2 linked regions of the Homo sapiens genome follow. The protein of the gene in region 1 interacts with the protein of each later gene in a pairwise test. Each region holds a gene or a part of one and is shown on either strand. Other genes may lie near its edges.

Region 1 (7,021 bases):
AGAGTTACAGATGCAGCTGGCCCCCTGGGGGGCTTCTATCCGCCTCTCAGAGCCCTTGGTCCCACCCTGTTATCTCTTCAGTGACAATCTTAGCTAGAGTTTCAGTTTGAGGGGTTTTACAAAACTTAACCCGTAGTATTTTTCAAGTACTACCCTCCCTAGTCCCCCAAGCCCCCACATTGTCCACTCCTGTTCAGAATATTGTTGATAGTGCAAGCCCTCTGGAAGGATAACACAGAAAATCCATTGTCTGATTATACCATGTTTCATAACATTTTATCATTTCCTAGCACATTTCCCAAAATGAGGGGTTACAGAGCAGATCAGGGAAAGGAAAATCTAGGCACACAGAGACCATTCTATTTAACAGGGGTGCCCAGGGAAGAGCAGGAAAGCACTGCAGACCTGGAAGAAAGTGTGGGCTAGTGCTGTACGGCAGCTGGACCCTCTGGCCTTCATAGCTATGGGTAAAATGGCATAAAATGCCAACTTCATAAGATTGCATTAGATATTATATTCACCAGTACTTTGAAAACTGTGCTGGTGTTACCAGTAGTACTAACATGATTATTCCTATAAAGTACTAAGAGGGGGACAGAAAAAGGACCATAGAGTGGCACTAAATGAAAGCCTGCCCTTCTTCATAGCTTCACTGGAGGCTTGCTCTGACCTGAGCTAGCTGCATCTGAATATTAGCAGAGGAAGTTATGTCAGGCTCAGAGATCTATGGACCCTGTTAGAAACTCTGTAATTCCTTTCTTTTTTTTTTTTTTTTTTTGAGTTAGGGTCTAGCTCTGTCACCCAGGCTGAAGTGCAGAGGCACAATCATGGCTCACTGCAGCCTTGACCACCCAAGCTCAAGCCATCCTCCCACTTTAGCCTCCCAAGTAGCTGGGACCACAGGTGCACACCACCATGCCTGGCTAACTTATTCTCTCTTTTTTTTAATAGAAATAGGGCTCTCACTATGTTGCCCAGGCTGCCCGGGTTGGTCTCAGACTCCTAGAATCAAGCTATCCTCCTGCCTTGGCTTCCCAAAGTGCAGGGGTTACAGGTGTGAGCCACTGTGCCCAGCCCAATTCCCTTATTTCTGAATCACAATTTCTACCTATCCAGGTGACATTTTCCTTAATTTCTCCATGTAAATATAGGATCTGAGGTAGTAAGAGATGTGTGTGTGTGCATGCCTGCATGTGTGTGTGCATGATGAGTTGCCAGTGTTACCTGCAACAGATGAAAATGAAGATCCAATGCCTTGAAGGGTTCGGGCCACAAAGAGTAGAGTATAGGTCCCAGAAAAAGCAAACACTGGGCAGAGAGAATAGCAAGATAACTGCAGTTAGCAAATTGCCTTTGCTTCCCCAGCCGCCAGAGAACATGCCCGTGATACTGCAGATATGAGTCTTGATGCATATGTTTTTAATAAAGCATGATGACTGTTCCCTGTTTTTTGAGTTGTCTTTTCAATCTCCCACTCCTCAGTTTTGCTATTTAAATGGCAAGAAAACTGAGAAACCACAGAAGTATAAACCGAGTCACCACACAGCAGATGGAAGGCTGAGTCTGTACATCTCTTGCCAAGAACCCAACATTCTGTCCACTGAAATGAGGGATGTCCATGAAGCTCAGTGTCCTAGGCTGGAAACTGGTTCTTAGATCATACTCCTGGATCGTCCATGTGCAAAATCCAGATCTGGTCTTTACCATTGCTGGGTCCCACAGGATCATCTGGAGTACAGTGACAGTAAGTAGGTGCTTCGAGGATTATAGGAATTGGGTAGAAAATAATATCTTGTGATACAATCAGATCCTTTTTTATATCTTATATTGAACGATCTTTTAACCAGACAAAATCAGCAGGTATTAAATTATACTGAATGCGCAGCTCTGCTAGACTCTGTAGCAAATGCAAAATAAAAATAACATCTAGTTATTGTCCGTGAAGAGAGGCAGTGTGTTGAAGATGGACACCCAGGAAACTGAGATCCAACAGGAATATGTCATCCAAAACAATAAGAGAAATATGGCTCTGTCCTGCCAGGCTCCCAGACAGTCAGACCTAATGGTTATCTCCCCTTGCTCCCTGAACATCTCCATTATCCTATTCTTTTTTCAAGGTTCTGAGATCTCATATTGTTCAAACACACACGCTTTATGAACAATTTGTGCAGTTAACGCAATCCTCACAGGGTCCTGAGTCGACATACATCCTCAGTTTACGAAGACCATGGGATTAAGAGATTAAAGTAAAGACAGGCATAGGAAATTATAAGAGTATTGATAATTGGGGAAGTGATAAATGTCCATGAAATCTTCACAATTTTATGTTCAGAGATTGCAGTAAAGACAAGTGTGAGAAATTATAAAAGTATTAATTTGGGGAACTAATAAATGTCCATGAAATCTTCATGATTTATGTTCTTCTGTCATGGCTTCAGCAGGTCCTTCCATTCAGGGTCCCTGACTTCCCGCAACACAAAACTAAATCAGAGGGTGCTGGTGGTCAGGGTAGTTAAGTCCAGACATGTCTCACCTCCAATTCCAGAAAAATGTCTCCTAGGGTAAGAATAATCTCCTCGAAGTGTCTGAATCAGAAGAATTGTAATCCCTTTGCCCATTCATTACAGATGTCTTTGGTTGTGTTTTTAATCTTCTCCCATTACTTCCCGGCAGACATGATCACACCGAACTTCTCCTTGTCTCCCAAAGATGCACATTCTTGGTCTCTTCTTTCCTGGCCACCAGCATCTTTTCTCAGACTTTGTTATTTCCAGTCTTTTCTGTCTACTCTCCCAATGTCCTTTGAGAATAGAGTGACCCACTCATCTTGGTCTGCCCAGAACTTCCTTGTTTTTAAAACTGAAACTCAAAATACCCCACAAAAACAGGAAGTCTTACATCCTGGGAAGCCCCTCACTACAGTGTGGACATGGGTTGTTTGTCCCCACCAAATCTCATGTTGAAATTTGATCCCCGGTGTTGGAGATGGGGCCCAGTGGAAGGTGTTTGGGTTATGGGGAAGGATCCCTCATGAATACTTTAATGTCTTCCTTTGGTGGTGAGTGAGTTCTCACTCTACAGTTCTCTCAAGAGCTGCTGGTTAAAAAAAGGCTGGCACCTCCCTCTCCTCTCTCTTTCTTCCTCTCTCATCTCTGCACAGCCAGCTCCCCTTCACCTTCCACCATGAGTGGAAGCTCCCTGAGGCCCGCACCAGAAGCAGATGCTGGTGTCATGCTTCTTGTAGAGCCTGCAGAACCATGAGCCAACAAACCTCTTTCTAATATAAATGACCCAGCCTCAGGTACTCCTTTATAGCAATGCTAAATGGACTAAGACACCCCTCAATTCTAGGCAAACCAGGAGAGTTGGTCATTCTATTTAGGAATACCAAAGCAATTATTTTTTTCACTTTGGACCCTTTACATGGGCCACCATTTCACTCTTGATTACATTAGGCATGGCTCCTAGTTGGGGGGTGGAGGGTTTAAGGGTAGTAACGGGCATCAACAATCTCTTTTAAGTATTTTTTAGAACATTGGACAAGGATACCCTAAACATCAAATGTATTTTCTTTTGGTTAGAATTAGGCCAACTCCATATAGCAACACAGCTATCCTATGGAAATAATAATTATTTAACATATATAGTTTGGTATAAGTTAAACAATAATTACTTAACATATACAGTTTACTTTAAAAGTAAAGCTTTTAACACATGAATTCTTGGCAGAGAATCAGGCAAGGATATCATGCTAAAACGTCTCAGATCCACTAGCACACCGCATTGTCTTACTTCTCAGTGTGTGTCTCATGTCTCCCCAGGCAACCATCATATACACTTCTGATAGCTGGAATCATGTCTTTTCATTCTTTATGTGACTATGGCCATCTGGGCATTATACATGCACTGCATAAAGTTGTTTGGAATAAATCTTAAGCCTCATTTGATGAAATAGGGCACCTGGCATCTTATTATTTTTAAATTTGCTGTCTAACTTAGGCTGAACTGCTAGAAGTTCCATGAACAGTGCTAATTTGAATTTCTTCATTTTCTTCAAGTCCACTAAAATTTCACAAACAAGACGTAGTTCTCAGAGACAACCTCACATCTCAAGTTCTTGCAGTTTGCAGCCTTCCAGCCCAGAATGCAACAAATTCTTGTTAAATATTGGGTTGCTAGGAATCAAGTTCTGTGCTGGGAAAGAAGAAAAGTTGAGGAAGAGGAAGACAGAAAGTAGACAAGGAACAGAAAGGTAATAAGAAAAATGAGAGGCATGTTCTCACTCATAGGTGGGAATTGAACAGAGAACACATGGACACCGGAAGGGGAACTTCACACACCGGGGCCTGTCATGGAGTCGGGGGAGAGGGGAGGGATAGCATTAGGAGATATACCTAATGTAAATGATGAGTTAATGGGTGCAGTACTCCAACATGGCACATGTATACATACGTAACAAACCTGCACGTTGTGCACGTGTACCCTAGAACTTAAAGTATAATTAAAAAGAAAAGAAAAGAAAAGAAAAACGCGAGGGAGAAGGAGGTGTGTTGTTGGAGAGCAGAGGTTCAGCAGGGCCATCGGGAACCAAGGCTGGATCCACAGGCTGCCTTCCCCTGCCTTAACCTGCTAACGCTAACCCTTTTCATTCCTTCTTCCTTTACTTCTCAGCATCAATTTCCAGACTTACTTTTCTCATGTACTGTGTTTATCCCATCTCCATTTTATTAGAAACATTTAGCTGATCCTGGATAGAGTATTTGTCTTTCTCTTTCTTGTTTCTTTAGCAAATTTACTTTTCTAAGCTTAACCTTTAAAGCCCTTAACTGAAAAGCAGTAGGCTTTTTGGAATTTTCCAGATGTTATTGTCCAATTTCCATTTTTTTGTGAGTTGCCCTTTTCCATGGCATAACAAAATAATATCATTGCTTCTCATAGATGGAAAGTTTGTATTAAACTTGCTCAAGGGATTACTGATGCATATAACACACACACACACACACACACACACACACCCCGTAGCATACATATTCAAACAGCTCTCATTATGTCCAGCTGAAGTGAAGTGAATAAAATATCTGTTCTTCTATAGCAGAATAGACCAATTCCAACTAGACTGAATTGTCACTACTGTTCTAGTCCACATACCAAAAACAGCAGAGCATTTAAACCAATATTCCAGTCTGCTTAGTCAGATGCCTAATTACATTCTAGGTTACCCTGCTATCTACACCGCATTCACTTGATAAAATCAAAGGTAATCAGTGAAGGGAAGAAAAGAGGAAGCAAATTACTTACTAACTGTGGAGAGAAACATGATAACAAAGCCAGCAAACATGGGGATATGATATCCAATCCTAAAAGGGAATTGAAAAAAAAAAAGATACAATTCCAACAGGCACTCACATACATGGACTACATTTTTAAATGTAAGTGGGAGCAGAAATGCAGCTATTTGGGTGTATGGTAAAACATGCCTCTGAATGTAGTGTGGAGATGAAATAGGGCATGTGGATGAGTATGAGCAAACAAACAAACATGCAGATATGACCATAGATCAGGGCCAAAATTCTCATTTCCAGAAATGATAGCCTAGGTGGAGTGTATATCTCTTGAAAATATCAGAATAATCGTCAATACAACTCCTGGGAAGCCAGTGCTCTAGATTACAACAGGACTGTCCCATTCATACCCTTTTCCCATTCAAGCCATGCTCCAGGTCACTGATAGAACATCACAGCACACTGCTGTTCATGGTTCTCTTCTTGGTACTCAATACTCAATATATCACTAAGAAAATCTGATCCCATAACATTTCATCAGTAACATGTTATTCTTTGAGTAACGAGCTTTCCGAATAGCTGACTCCCCTGAGGAATCATACAAGTGAGTATTTCTTCTTTTTCCCTTCCAACCCCCTTTCTATACTTTTCTAGTCCTCCTACTCCTGTGTACCCTGCGGGGCACTGCACCCAGTGAGATACCTGTTGGTGAGAGGGCCCACGAATGGGTTGACCAGAAGTTGCATCACAGCCTTTGAAGCAAACAGAACCCCGACCCGGGTAATCTCTTCCTCCAAGAAACCTGTGCCTTGCAAGCAGTTGTTTTTATGAGCTGAGATGGCTTCAGTGGCTGGAGGTGGGATGGTGCTGGCAGTGTCATTCATCCATGCTATTCCACTAGGTACGCTTTCTTCAACAGCCACGGTGTTGTTGTTGAAGAAGGAGAAGATGGTGGAAAAGGCAGGAGAGGCGAGGGCATGTGGGGAACTTCCGGCATGGCCGAGGTGCAGAGAAGAGTTGACTTCTTTGAACTCCATGTCATATAGGAAGGTGGGCACAATTGGCACTGAAAGTCAAAGAGGACAGGTGATGGGGGCTAAGGACCGATGTCATCTTACCACTGAAACTCAAGGGGCTAAGGACAGATGTCAATTCTACTGAAAGTCAAGGAGGACAGGTGATGGGGGCTAAGGACAGATGTCATCTTACCACTACTAGGATCAGGGGACTATGATGAGGTTCAGCCTTATGCCCAAGGCTGGTATCTGGAGTGGCATGGTTAAAACCTACTAAAAGACTGTGCCTGCCCAAGTTATCCTATTAGCTAAAGTAGCTAAATTCTGACCTTATACAGTTAGTCCTCATTGTTCATGGTTTCCACATTGGCTAACTCTCCTACTCACTTAGATTGACATGTAACCCCCCAAACCAACACACACTGAGCTACCACGACATTTCACAGACATGTCCAGCTCTCACACAGACCTGGCCACAGGAGGGGATGGGAGGAGGAAGGGCAGGGTGGTCAGAGGAGCCTCAGCTCTGGGACCCCTGGACAGGGTTTGAATCCCAACTCTGGCACCTGCTAGTGGAGAGGCCTTGGGCAAGTCACTTAACACTTCTGAACTTCTTTTTCTCTTTTATAAAGAAAACACGATGTACCACGATGTTTAAGATTTAAGATTATAATTGTGTGTGTGTGTGTGTGTGTGTGTGTGTGTGTGTTTCCCTGGGAGCAA
Region 2 (7,662 bases), on another chromosome or scaffold:
ATGTGATCTGGGTGAGGCCTCTCGCTGCCAGCTATCCCCCACTTCCCTGGCGAACTATATGGCACAGCAGAGGCAGCCATAATCCCCTCTGTAACAAACCCCATTGGCCTTAGGACAATCTGCATCCCTCACAGTGGCCGCAGCAAGCCCTGCTTAAGGAAAGTCTGAGCTCAGACCCAGCTAACCCTGCCCTCCACCTGATGGTATTTCTCTACTTATCCTGGTAGCTGAACACAAAAGACATAAACTCGTGGGAGCTTTATGGCCCTGCCAATCACCTGAGAAACTAGAATACTTACCCTGGTCAACCTAGGGCAAGCTTGTATCTCCCTTCTACTACCGCAGCTGGTGCTCTCTTGAAAGTGCCACTTCCTGGCTGGAGACCAACCAACTCAGGCCATTACAGCAACTCATGACAGAATAACCCTATTCCCAGGAAGGAGAAGACAAGAGCTAATACCACTGCCCGCAACATCCTGACTGACCAGAGGTCCTCAGTCTCTCCACATGACAGCTTCACTGCTAGCATAACCAGCATTGGAGAAAACAGCACACTAAAGAGAACTACAACCAATGACTCTCACGGAGTCTACTTCACTCGCCTGTCACCTACACCAGAGTAGGTGCTGGTATCCATGGCTAGGAGACCAGAAGATGATCACATCACAGGACTCTTTGCAGACATTCCCCAGCACCAACCCAAAGGCTGGTATAGCCCCAGTGGGTGGCTATACCCAGAAGAGCAATAACAATCACTGCAGTCTGGCTCTCAGGAAGCCCTATTCCTAGGAGAAGGAGAGTACCACATCAAGGAATAACCCGTGGGACAAAAGAACCTGAACAGAAGGAGTTGAGTTTCAGATCTTTCCACTGAAATAGTCTACCCAAATGAGAAGGAACCGGAAAAGTAATTCTGGTAATATGACAAAACATATTTCTATAACACCCCCCAAAGCTATTGCTAGCTCCCCAGCAATAGATACAAGCCAACAAAAAATCTCTGAATTGCCATATAAAGAATTTAGAAGGTTGATTATTAAGCTATTCAAGGAGATAGCAGAGGAAGGTGAAAACCAACTTAAAGAAATTTTAAAAAATACAGAATATGGATGAAAATTCTCCAGAGAAATAGATATCACAAAGAAAAAACAATCACAGCTTCTGGAAATGAAAGACACACTGAAAGAAATACAAAAGGCACTGGAAAGTTTCAACAATAGACTAGAACAAGTAGAAGAAAGAACTTCAGAGCTTGAAGACACAGCTTTCAAATTAACCCAATCAGACAAAGACAAAGAAAAAAGAATTTTAAAAAATGAGCAAAGCCTCCAAGAAATTTGAGATTATGTTAAATGGCCAAATTTAAGAATAATTGGTGTTGCTGAGGATGAAGAGAAATCTAAAAGTTTGGAAAACTTATTTGAGGGAATAATTGAGGAAAACTTCCTTGGCCTTGCTAGAGATCTAGATATCCAGATACAAGAAGTTCAAAGAACATCTGGGAAATTCATCACAAAATGATCCTCACCTAGGCACATGTCATCAGGGTATCTAAAGTCAAGAAGAAGGAAATAATCTTAAGAGCTGTGAGACAAAAGCATAAGGTAACCTGTAAAGGAAAATCTATGAGATTAACAGCTAATTTATCAGCAGAAACCATACAAGCCAGAAGGGACTGGAGTCCTGTTGTTAGCCTCCTTAAACAAAATAATTGTTAGTCAAGAATTTTGTATCCAGCAAAACCAAGCTTCATAAATGAAGGAGAGATAAAGTCTTTTTCAGACAAACAAATGCTGAAAGAATTCGCCACTACCAAGCCAGTACTACAAGAAATGCTAAACGGAGTTCTAAGTCTTGAAACAAAACCTCGAAATACACCAAAATAGAACCTCCTTACAGCATATTGTTTTATAAGCCTTAGGGCCTATAAAACAATAACACAATGAAAAAAATAAGGTATTTAGGCAACAACTTGCCTGATGAATAGAACAGCACTTTATATCTCAATACTAACATTGAATGAAAATGGGCTAAATGGTTCACTTAAAAGGTACAAGGGCTGGGTGCAGTGGCTCACATCTGTAATCCCAGCACCTTGGGAGGCTAAGGCAGGCAGATCACGAGGTCAGGAGATCGAGACCATCCTGGCTAACACAGTGAAACCCCATCTCTACTAAAATACAAAAAAAAAAAAAAAAAAAAATTAGCCAGGTGTGGTGGTGGGCGCCTGTAGTCCCAGCTACTCGGGAGGCTGAGGCAGGAGAATAGCATGAACCCAGGAGGTGGAGCTTGCAGCGAGCCAAGATCGCACCACTGCACTCCAGCTTGGGTGACAGAGAGAGACTCCATCTCAAAAAAAAAAAAAAAAAAAAAAAAAAAAGGTACATAATGGCAGAATGGTACCGGTATAAAAATAGGCACATAGATCAAGGGAACAGAATAGAGAACCCAGAAATAAAGCCAAATACTTTCAGCTAACTAGTCTTTGACAAAGCAAAGAAAAACGTATAGTGCGGAAAGGACACCCTATTCAACAAATGGTGCCAGGATAATTGGCAAGCCACATGTAGAAGAATGAAACAGTATCCTCATACAAAAATCAACTCAAGATGGATCAAAGACTTAAATCTAAAACCTGAAACCATAAAAATTCTAGAAGATAACATCGGAAAAACTCCTCCAGACATTGGCTTAGGCAAAGAATTCAGGACCAAGAACCCAAAAATAAATGCAACGAAAACAAAAATAAAGAGATGGGACCTAATTAAAGTAAAAAGCTTCTGCACAGCAAAATAAATAATCAGCAGAGAAAACAGACAACCCTCAAAGTGGGAGAAAATATTTGCAAACTGTGCATTTGACAAAGGACTAATATCCAGTTTCTACAAGGAACTCAAACAAATCAGCAAGAAAAAAAAAATAATCCCATCAAAAAGTGGGCAAAGGACATGAATAGACAATTCTCAAAAGAAGATATACAAAATGAAATGGCCAAAAAAATATGAAAATGTGCTCAACGTCACTAATTATCAGAGAAATGCAAATTAAAACTGCAATAAGTTGCCACCTTACTCCTGCAAGAATGGCCATAATTTAAAAATCAAAGAAGAATAGAAGGGTGCAGTGGCTCACACCTGTAATCCCAGCACTTTGGGAGGCCAAAGCAGGTGGATCACTTGAGGTCAGGAGTTCAAGACCAGCCTAGCTAAAATGGTGTGAATATGGTGACAAGGGAAAACTTTTACACTGGTGGTGGGAATGTAAACTAGTACAACCACTATGGAAAACAGTATGGCAACTCCTTAAAAAACTAAAAGTAGAATACCATTTGATCCAGTAATCCCACTACCGGGTATCTACCCAGAGGAGAAAAGTTATTATATAAAAAAGATACTCGCACATGCATGTTTATAGCTGCATAATTTGCAACCGAAAAAATATGGAACCAACCTAAATGCTCATCAGCCAACAAGTGGATGAAGAAAATGTGTGTGTATATACACACACACACACACACACACACACCCCTATATATGTATATGCCATGGAATATTACTCAGCTGTAAAAAGGAAGGGAATAATGGCATCCGTAACAATCTGGATGAAGTTGGACACCATTATTCTGAGTGAAGTAACTCAGGAATGGAAAACCAAATATTGTATGTTCTCATTTATTAGTAGGAGCTAAGCTATGAAGACACAAAGTCACAAGAAGGATACAATGGGCTGGGCGCCGTGGCTCACACCTGTAATCCCAGCACTTTGGGAGGCCAAGGCAGGTGGATCACTTGAGGTCAGGAGTTCAAGACCAGCCTGGCCAAGATGGTGAAACCCCATCTCTACTAAAATTACAAAAAATTAGCTGGGTGTAGTGGCAGGCACCTGTAATCCCAGCTACTCGGAAGCTGAGATGGGAGGATGGCTTGATTGTGCCACTTGAAGTAGCTATGATTGTGCCACTGCTCTCCAGCCTGGGCTACAGAGCAAGACTCTATATCAAAAACATAACAGAAAACATAACCTCAGAAGCATTACAATAAATATGCAATAAGCATCCACCCAGCATGTGTGGGGGACTGTGCTGATGCTGATGGCATGTGTGGGAGTAAGGCAGGCATCTGAGGAATGTGGGGGAACGGAAGGACGGGGAGTAATCTGGAGAGCCCCACGGTCAGTCAGTGGCAGGTCTTTCTTGAGCTCAGAAAGGTTAGGTAACTAGTTCAGATCAGACAGTAAAACAGGGGCAGAGCCTGGAATTGCACTGAGGCTTGAGTCTGACTTCTCTCCCCCACCTGCTGTGCCCTTAAACTGCAGAGATCGGGGCGGGGGTTGGGGGGCAAGCGGCTCAGATGGGTTCAAAAAACTCCCCAGGCTCAACTCTGGTTCTGACTGCCTGAGACATGGGCAGCTGACACAGCAGACCTTGAATCCTGAGGATGTGAGGCAGGTGGGTTGGATGAGAGGGACCCGGATGTCTGGTCTGCGGCTGCTCCTCTAAGTGCAGCAGCAAGGAGGCTGGGCCTGGACTGCAGGTGGTGCTGGGGAGCAGCGTGTTTACTGTGCTTGGTCATGAGCTGCTGGGAAGTTGTGACTTTCACTTTCCCTTTCGAATTCCAGGGTATATCTGGGAGGCCGGAGGACGTGTCTGGTTATTACACAGATGCACAGCTGGACGTGGGATCCACACAGCTCAGAACAGTTGGATCTTGCTCAGTCTCTGTCAGAGGAAGATCCCTTGGTAAGTTGGGGATAGTGTGATCTACCCCCATGTCCTTATTCTTGCAATAGCTCTATAAGGGAAGGATCATTCAGCTTTTGTAGATAAGCTCAGAGAGGTTAGGTAGCTGGTTCAGATCAGACAGGAAAGCAGTGGCAGAGCCGGGATTTGCACCCAGGCTTGAGTCTGATTGCTCCCTCCCTCCTGCTGGGCGGGTAAACTGTAGAGAGAGGTGGGGAAAACAGCTTAGATGGGTTCACAAAGCTCCCCGGGCTCAGCTCTGGTTCTGACACCCTCAGACACGGCCAGCTGACCCCAGAAGAAAGGTAGGTGTTGGGGGTGCCCATCTCTTTGGGAAATTTGAAGGAATCAAAGAAGGTGGAGGAGGGGAGGTGACCTGGAGCCCGGCATGTCCTTGTGGCCGGGCCACACCCAGGCTGGCCCCAGGGTGCTGCTGCTGAAGCCCAATGGGAACAACAGATTTCTTTTGAGACACAAGGAACTCAGAGGTTGTCTCACTCACCCTGAGTCTGAGCACCTACTTGTGCCAGGCCCTGTGGGGAAACTGAGGCCCTGGGAGGGGAATGACTTGCCAGGGTCCCGTGTCAGGAGGCTGAGCAGGCAGATCATAGGACTTCACGTCTCTGGCCCTCACCTCTGTCCCTCTGTTCAGACCTCTGAGCTGATAGAGAAGAAACAGGCTGTGCTGTGTCCCTAATGGGAAACATGGCTGAGACAGGGGAGTGAGAAGGTCGCATTGCAGAATGGTACCTGTGGCATGATGCCAGCTTTGCAATCATGAGATTCAAAAGCCACACTGTGGAATTGTGAGTATAACTACAGGAGTGAGAGCTTAGGTCTCTGTGTTTGTAGAAGCAGAATCAAACCTGGACACTGTTGGATTATTAAAATCACCCATTTTTGCTTCAATATCAGAGTCACAAGGGCAGATGTTGGCCTCCCCTCTGCCCTCCAAGAGCTGTGTGACTCTGGGCAAGTCACCTCCCCTCCCAGCCTAAGATTTTTCCCCTCTAAAAAACTTGATAGAGCTGCCAAAAGTCCATGAAATCAGGGGGGTAATTTCTGTGAAATATGAGTCATGGTCTTATTTGTTCTTCACCAAAAAGAGATGCCCATCAAGATAGAAAGAAAAATTAAATTCAATTTCTCAACTGAAAGTGAAACTGAAGCTGGGCCATGTCATCCAGAGGCTGGTTGCTTTTAGTTCAAGTAATGCCTCCTGCACCTGGGATTTCAGCCAGGCTGTGCCAGGGAGGGCGGAGGGCATCCAGGTCAGTCGTAGGGGGTGCAGCTGGGAACACAACAGTGTCCCCATTGAATGTTCAGAGTCTAAAGGGGAGACAGAGGCCCAAAGAGCCACATACAGGTAGAGCTCCCTCTGGAAAGCAGAGTGCTCAGGGAGCCTGGGGAGGGTTGGGGGCCGCCGCATGGACCAGGCAGCTTTGGGTGGGTCTCTGAGGACAGGTGACTTGCACATGGTGGGGACAGTGGGGGGGACATTCCAGGGCGAGGGAGCAGCTGAGTGAAGGCCTGAGGCTGGGGATGGGAGTGGGAGGAGTAGATGGGCTCCAGGAGGCACCGAAGCAGGGCGTCAGTGGGTGCCTGGACCTAAGGTGACTGTGGTGGCAGGGAGCGGTGAGGAAGGTGGGGTCCAGAGCATCAGAGGGCCTGTGTGCCCTGCTATGGGGTTTGAACTTGACCGTGGCTTTTCACTGAAGATTCCTCAGAAGGGTGCAGTGCCACGGCTGAGGCCTGTAATTCAGTGCTGTGGGAGGCAGAGGCGGGAGAATCACATGATGCTAGGAGCTCAAGACAGCTTGGGCAACACAGGAGATGCTGTCTCTCTGAAATGAAAAATTAACAAATTAGTCCTGCATGGTGCCGTGTGCCTGTAGTCCCAGCTACCTGGAAGGCTGAGGCAGAAGGATCACTTGAGCCCAGGGGCTCTAGGCTACAGCAAGCTGTGATAGCCCCAAAGCACTCCAGACTGGGTGACAGAGCAAGACAGTTTCTCAAAAATAAAATGAAAATGACGATTTCTCAGGAAATCATTTCGACTCCTCTTTCCCTGCCCAAGGAGGATGCCCCACAACCACTTGGAGGGAGATGCTTTGCTGAGAGTCCCTGTCCTCTGCATCTGGAGAGCTTGGCTCAGAGCTGAGGTGGGAGGGAGGGCTCCTCTTCCAGGTCGCTCAGTTGGACACCGGAATTGACCAGCCTGCAGGCTCACCCATGGAGTACACACTGTGTCCTAGTCAAGCCTGAGGGGCAGTATCCAGCCTCAACCCCCAGCAGAGGCTCCAGACAAAGGTGGGAGCCAGGCCAACAATGACCCAGGAGGATGGGATCCTGGATGCAGCTCCTCACAAGTATTGGGCAGGTCCGAGGCCCCAGCTCTGTCTGCCCTCCTGCTCCTCTTCTCCCTCCTGGTCCTCCTGGTTCTCATGGCTCATGAGATGGCGTTGAGACAGCTCCCCTGGCCTAGGGTGTCACAGAGTGAACAAAGCAGGAAGAAGGGGAAGGGAAGACCCCCTCCCGTCACCCCGTCCCTTACAGCAAGAAGTGTCCAGATGCCCCTCTGCATACTCCCCTGGTGAACTGCTGCCCAGGACTGGGTCCCCCTTTTAGTCTTGCTGCGTAGGGGCCCCAGAAGACAGATATCTGGATGCCTCGACCCTGAAACAGAGGTGGGAAGTGGAAAGAGGGAGGCGAGTGGCTTTTGAGGAGGGGGCTTTTGTATAAGAGCTGGAGGATGCCCGGGAACCACTGAGCTGTTAAAATAAAGTCTGCAAACAAAGACCAGCTGCTGGAAGTGGGTGTGCCGGGGAGTGCGCAGAGACACAAGGTGAGAAAAGAACAATGGTGATTTTGGAGCCGCCCCTAACTGGGATGGGCCTGAATCGGTATTATCATTATTACTTATA

Evidence for each region.
Region 2: the proteins of SLC18A1 (region 1) and APOL2 interact in binary tests that used the Homo sapiens proteins (3 or more experiments, as listed by UniProt).

Annotation. Positions count from the first base shown.
Region 1 is NC_000008.11:20,173,137-20,180,157, forward strand, and holds part of SLC18A1 (chromaffin granule amine transporter), read right to left. Parts: intron 6,349-7,021; coding exon 5,985-6,348; intron 5,358-5,984; coding exon 5,299-5,357; intron 1,309-5,298; coding exon 1,225-1,308; intron 1-1,224.
Region 2 is NC_000022.11:36,236,517-36,244,178, reverse strand, and holds the start of APOL2 (apolipoprotein L2), read left to right. Parts: upstream 1-4,651; 5' UTR 4,652-4,738; exon of another isoform or gene 4,739-5,043; intron 5,044-7,330; exon of another isoform or gene 7,331-7,583; intron 7,584-7,662.